Linked DNA regions of Homo sapiens. The protein of the gene in region 1 purifies or fractionates together with the protein of each later gene. This does not show direct contact. Each region holds a gene or a part of one and is shown in the gene's direction. Other genes may lie near its edges.

Region 1 (3,097 bases):
GCACTCTCTCGAATGCCGTCACACCTGGCAGCCTGGAAGCCACAGGCATCCGGCCTTGCCCAGGCATCTCGCCTGCGGTCTGAGGAAGGGAACAGAAGGTCATGAGTTCAGGGTCAGACGCAGCCGCTCAGCACAGGAGGGGTGGAGGGGAAATGAGAGTTGCTGGTAGCAGGCTCCCTCCTTCTGCAGCCCGGCGAATGGGGGCGCTGGGCTCTGTTCCCAGCGTTTGCCAGAGGTGGCCACTTCAGCCAAGCCCAGAGAAGTGTGGGCAGAAGCAGTGAAGGTTCTTCTCTGTGTGGGTGCCCTGCCCACCCCCTCCTTTGCCTGTGTCCTCCCGGCCTGGATCCATGGCTGACTCTGCCTGGAGGCCATTTGTGCCTGCCTCTGTGCTGCCGCAGGAGGGCAGGCCGCAAGTGGGGTTGGTGGGGGTCGAGCGGGCAGCACGGTGCAGCGGTGCAGTGGCAAGGGGGGCTACTTGTGTGGCATAAGCTAGAGGAGCCGGTGCCGCCTGAATGCCGAGCTAACTGTTGCCACTCTCCTCCCCAGACTATGAAATCCCTGGAGAATTTTTGGTGACATGCACTGAGCCAAGGTGATGGACTGTATATTTGAGGAAAGACAAACAAAGAAACAAAATTAAAATGGAATTGGAGGCCGAACGCTGCACAGCTGCCCTCTCTCTCACCCAGTAAATGCAGAAAGCTCTTAGGACAGACAGAAAACCTGCCATGGGGCTGCTTCCCTCCCTCGCAGGGCTGGCGGAGGCTCCGCATCGCCTCTCTCCTAGGATACAGAAACCATGGCAACGAAAGTAGAATGTAAAACTCGCAGCAGATATCAGTGGGAAGGGCTGGGGGAGGGGGCACCCAGCTGCCTTTCCTCCCTCACAGGAGCCACCACCAGCCACCTCTCAGGAGAAGCCAGAGGCCCTGGCCAAAGATAGGAGGAAGAAAGAGAACTCTCCATAGAATGTAATTTATAGATGCGTGTATATGTATATATATCTATTTATATGTAAATAGGCATATATGAAGATATATATATATATAGTCTACTTTTTAAACTCTGCAGGGATTTGGTTAAGTTGTTGAGCTGATTTCTTCCATGTTTTAGAAAATGAGGCCTGTTTGGGGAAGGTACCCTGGTGATGTTTTTGCTAGACATTAGCTGTAGCTGACAGCATAAGGAGAGTCGCATCAGAGCTTTTCACAGCCCCCCGAAACCCCAGCCTGGTTTTGATGGCAGCAGTAATCATGATAGTGTGAACCCGCGAAGGCCTCAGGATTATGGTTAACCTGGAGAGGAGCAGGCCATGGAGGCAGGTGCCAGGTCAGTATTGAGTCACAGTAGAGGCCCCACAAGGACCTGCTTGGGTGAGACCACCTCTCCCCTCTCAGCAGCGCTGGTGGGCTCTTTGTCCTGGTGCCCAGGAGCCCTCCAGCCCCCTGCCCACAGAAGGGAAGGCCTGCAGAGGGGGCCAGGATCTACCTAACCATTTCCCCACCCCTAAGTCCCTCAGTGGGCTTTGCCTTATAGGTGCCACAGGGCACAGCTCCATCATTGCCACTGGTTTTTCCTAAGTCATGCACCAAGGACTTCAGAAAGTTCTTCCTCCGAGTCAGTCAGTGGTGCCGGGACCCCAGGGCAGCCTCCTCGACTCCTGAAGAAAAGGCAGTGCCCGTGGCTGCCTCTGTCTTCACTCGCTGTTGATGTGACCGCCAGGCCTCCTCTCGTACCTTGGACAAAGGATACACCTGAACCAGAATAGTTTTCTTACCCTCACATTGAAATGAGGATTTTGCTTAAAACAGCACTTGCCGCCAGTGGGAGGAGGGAGGTTTTATTTATTCCCACAGTTTCTCCTGGGCCTTCTGGAATGACCATGTTTTCCTGTGGCGGTGGGTGTGTCATTGCGCCCGCCGTCTTCCAAAGCCTTACTTCCCCAAGCTGCCAGCCAGGAGGTGATAACCACCCTCCCAGAGTTTCTCTCGGCTCTTTTTTTAAAAGTCCCCCAACAAATAGGATTCTTGCTGGGAAAGGAAGTTCGGTAAGGAAATGTCAAATCTGGTTTTTAAACAAGGTCCAACCCTGCAATGAAGCAGCCACTTCAGCCCAGAGAGATTATAAGAACTGATGTGGCCAGAGTGCCTACCCACTGTGGCCCCGGTGCTCTGCCCCCACGCCCCGACCATCTGGTCTTGGTAGATGTCCCTAGACGGGCTGAGCCATGTGCAATAAGAACATAGATCCTAAAGGATCCTCTGGAAGCTGTATTTCTTGAATTAGAATTCTCAAATTGTACATCTGTTAATATATGTTTATTATGTGACTGGCCGTGGTGGGTCTGCATTGAGCAGGGAGGCCTAAGGGGTGGGGGGGAGGGGGCACAAGCCCCTGCTGCTGCTGACACTGTCCAGCCTGTGCCACAAGGAGCTCTAGATGATGAGCCTGAATTTCCCCCGACCCCTGGCCCTGGCTAACAGCCACTTAAGCCACACATGCTGTTCCAGAACTAACTCCATCCAGGCAGAGGGGTGCTCAGGTGACTGGGGGGCTGCAGGACCTGAGCAGTCTGGGTCCCTGGGGTCCCCAGCGCCAGTCCTGGCTGGGCATCTGGGCCACGACCATCACCCTCTGCTTTTCCCTCTCCCAATCCCTCCCCCCCACACCCTCAGGCCTGCCATGTGCCCGCAGAGCATTCGAAATTCCCGGCCCCAGCCTGGAGCTCGATCCCACTCAGGAGCCAGATCCTGGGAAAAGTGTTGCGAGTTTGTTTCCATCGTCCTTCCCACCATCCTCCCCCAAACCGCCCCCGCAGCCCGCCCTCCTCTCCAGGAGGTTGAAAAAGTTTAAAATGTGGCAGCCCAAGTCGGGTCGGGCTCCTGTGAATGGAGCGGCAGATCTGCCCAGGCCTCCCAGAGACAGGGCCCGGCAGCCCTGACTGGCGGACCCAGGCCCCTCCCGCGGCTGCACCAGCCAAAGACAGGCGGGCTGCCCAGTGGTGCCACCGTGGCCCGGGAGCTCATTGGCTGCCCCTGCCCAGGGTCACCACTGCCTGCCCTGGTGTGCAAGCCGCCACTTGTTAGCTGCGGTTGGC
Region 2 (3,705 bases), about 45 Mb from region 1:
CCTCCCAAGTAGTTGGGATTATAGCCATGCACCACCATGCCTGCCTAATTTTGTATTTTTAGTAGAGACAGGATTTCTCCATGTTGGTCAGGCTGGTCTCGAACTCCCAACCTCAGGTGATCCACCCACCTCGCCTGCCAAAGTGCTGGGATTCAGGCGTGAGCCACCGCACCCAGCCTCTTTGCTTATTTTTTATCTGATTAATTTTTAATTGTCTAGGTGTCCCTGTTACCTGAGAATGACAGATGGAATGAAACTAGAGCCCAGCTGCTTGCACAAATGGATGTTAGTATGGGAGGAAGAGTGGCAGAGGAGCTTATATTTGGAACCGACCATATTACAACAGGTTAGCTTTAAAGAATGGCTTTAGTTCAAATTATATGTGGTCTTAAAGATATGTTTTAAAATGGTATGTTTTTATTTTATTTTAGGTGCTTCCAGTGATTTTGATAATGCCACTAAAATAGCAAAGCGGATGGTTACCAAATTTGGAATGAGTGAAAAGGTAATAGATTTTTTAAATCCTTTTCATGTATCAAATTATGTGTCAAGTGTTGATTTGAGAGCTGGTTCTGATTATAAATTGGTAATATTCACTTTTTCTCTCACTCCAAATGGATTTGAGGCTCTTTATTCTGAACATTGTTATTCTCTGAATAAAGAAAATGGACCTTCTCTTAGCTGCTGAGAATGAGCTGCCCAGATAGTAACTATTACTTCACGAGTTAATTAAGTGATAAAGCAAGGTGAATTCCTTAGCTTTTCCATGTGGCATGAAAGAGTCTACTTTCTAAGTTTGGTTACTTTACTGTTTCCCTCTATTTCATATTTTCATCTTGTCATTGTTCCTTGAAGCACTACTATACTCTGTGAATTATGGATTTCTATATTTGAAGTAGCTGCCAAGGTTTTTCAAGAAAGTACTGAGAACCAGACTTAAAATGATTTTAGGCTGGGCACTGTGGCTCACATCTGTAATCCCAGCACTTTGGGAGGCTGAGGAGACTGTATTGCTTGAGCCCAGGAGTGAGTTCTGGACCAGCCTGGGCAACATGGCACAACCCCATCTCTAAAAAAATACAAAAATTAGCCAGGTATGGTGGTGTGTGCCTGTAATCCCAGCTACTTGGGAGTCTGAGGTGGGAGGATTCTCTGAACCCAGGAGGTCGAGGCTACAGTGAGTCCACTGCACTCTACCCTGGGTGACAGAGCAAGACCCTGTCTCCAAAAAAAAAAAAAAAGATTTTAAATGTTCTGTCTTGCTCATACTTTTACTATTTTGATATTAGTGTTTTTTTGTTTCTTTGTTTTTGAGACGGAGTCTTGCTCTGTTGCCCAGGCTGTAGTGCAGTGGCGTGATGTTGGCTCACTGCAGCTACCGCCTCCCGGGTTCAAGCGATTCTCCTGCCTCAGCCTCCCAAGTAGCTGGGATTACAGTCACCTGCCACCATGCCTGGCTAAATGTTAGTCTTTATACTTTCAGAAGAATGTGGAAATTTCTTTGCCCTCAAATGCAGTTTTTATTTTTATTTTTTTTGGAGACGGAGTCTCGCTCTGTCACCTAGGCTGGAGTGCAGTGGCGCAATGTCAGCTTACTGCAACCACCGCCTCCTGGGTTCAAGCGATTCTCCTGCCTCAGCCTCCTGAGTAGCTGTGATTACAGGCACGTGCCGCTATGCCCAGCTATTTTTTGTGTTTTTAGAAGAAATGGCGTTTCTCCGTGTTTCCAGGCTGGTCTCGAACTCCTAACCTCAGGTGATCCACCCGCCTCGGCCTCCCAAAATCCTAGGATTACAGGTGTGAGCCACTGTGCCCGGCCTCAAATGCAGTTTTCTATTGTACTTCTTTCTTGTCCCCCATATATTTGTTTCCTTATATATAGGATAGTACTTTCTCTTTCAAATTTGTTGGTGTTTGGGGGTTTTCTGTTCAATTACTTTCTTCCTTTTGGTTTTAGCTTGGAGTTATGACCTACAGTGATACAGGGAAACTAAGTCCAGAAACCCAATCTGCCATCGAACAAGAAATAAGAATCCTTCTAAGGGTAATAATATTTTTTGTGCTTATTTATTTTCTTAGGAACAATGTGCTTAAATAGTCAGGTTCTTAAAAAATAACAGCTGAAGGCCCTCTGTTCACTAGAAACATCATTTTATAAAATAAAGATAATAGTCACCATGGTGTCTGGGGAAAAAATTAAAAAATAAAGATAATAGTTGCAGCATTTCAGCAATGATTTAAATGTTATTAAGGCACCTCTCTGTTCATGAACCTGGACACGGGCTAAGAACAGTTCTATATTGCATGGTTGTAAAAATTCAATTCTCAGGGTGAGGGACAAAATAACTACATATTAGGTATTAGGTACAGTGTACACTATGTAGGTATGGATACACTAAAATCCCAGACTTTACCACTATACAATTCATCCATGTAACCAAAACCACTTGTACCCCATAAGCTGTTGAAATAAAATCTATATATAAAATTTTATATGTATATAAAATTCAATTGTACTTTAGCTGCAAAACTGTAAGAGGTAATAGAATGGGAAGAGTATTGTTTATTGAGTCTTTGACATGTATTCAACAAATAAATTTTTTTTTTTTTTTTTATGGAGTCTCATTCTGCTGCCCAGGCTAGAGTGTAGTGGCATGATCTCGGCTCACTGCAACCTAAGAAATAAGTTTAGTAGGTGTTTTATTGTTGGTTTTTTGTGGGTTTTGTCATTTTTTTTTTAAGGGGATGGGTCTTGCTATATTGCCCAGGCTGGACTTGAACTCCTGGGCTCAAGTCAACCTCCCAAGTAGCTGGGGCTACAGGCACACACCACTATGCCTAGCTCTATGATTTCAGTTTTTTGTTTTTGTTTTTTCTTTTTTTTTTTTTTTTGAGACAGAGTTCTGCTCTTGTTGCCCAGGCTGGAGTGCAGTAGTGCTATCTCGGCTCATTGCAACTTCCGCCTTCTGGGTTCAAGTGATTCTCCTGCCTCAGCCTTCTGAGTAGCTGGGATTACAGGCGCGTGCCACCATGCCTGGCTAATTTTTTGTATTTTTAGTAGAGACAGGGTTTCACTATGTTGGCCAGGCTGATCTCAAACTCTTGACCTCAGGCGATCCACCCACCTCGGCCTCCCAAAGTGCTGGGATTACAGGCATGAGCCACTGCGCCCGGCCCAATTTCAGTATTATGTATGTTGAATTTGAGGCATCTTAGTTGGAAATAGATGTGGGAACTTAGTGGAGAGATTGGTTATGTATTGCATTTGAATGTTGAAGCTACCCATTCATGAAGGCAGGTCTTTTTTTTTTTTTTTTTTTTTTTTTTTTTTTTTTTTTTTTTTTTGAGACAGCATCTTGCCCTGTCACCCAGGCTGGAGTGCAGTGCTGTGATCTTGGCTCATTGCAACCTCTGTCTCCCAAGCTCAAGTGATCCTCCCACCTCAGCCTCCTGAGTAGCTGGGACTATAAGCGCATGCTGCCATGCCTAGCTAATTTTGTTATTTTTTGTAGAGAGCATTTCACTATGTTACCCAGGCTGGTGTCGAACTCCTGGGCTCAAACGATCCACCTGCCTTGGCCTCCCAAAGTGCTGGGATTACAGGTGTGAGCCACCGCACCCAGCCAGGCAGGTTTTAAGGGTAAGACTGACCAGCCTGGGCAACATGGCAAAACCTCATCTCTACAAAACATAGAAAAATTAGCT

The links.
Region 2: the proteins of DNAJB12 (region 1) and YME1L1 purify together in Homo sapiens (affinity purification with mass spectrometry, with the first as the bait; one large-scale study listed by BioGRID). This does not show direct contact.

Annotation. Positions count from the first base shown.
Region 1 is NC_000010.11:72,332,067-72,335,163, reverse strand, and holds the end of DNAJB12 (dnaJ homolog subfamily B member 12), read left to right. Parts: exon of another isoform or gene 1-546; coding exon of another isoform or gene 547-576; 3' UTR 577-2,301; downstream 2,302-3,097. UniProt on the Homo sapiens protein: Acts as a co-chaperone with HSPA8/Hsc70; required to promote protein folding and trafficking, prevent aggregation of client proteins, and promote unfolded proteins to endoplasmic reticulum-associated degradation (ERAD) pathway.
Region 2 is NC_000010.11:27,112,860-27,116,564, reverse strand, and holds part of YME1L1 (ATP-dependent zinc metalloprotease YME1L1), read left to right. Parts: intron 1-219; coding exon 220-346; intron 347-431; coding exon 432-505; intron 506-1,957; coding exon 1,958-2,044; intron 2,045-3,705. UniProt on the Homo sapiens protein: ATP-dependent metalloprotease that catalyzes the degradation of folded and unfolded proteins with a suitable degron sequence in the mitochondrial intermembrane region.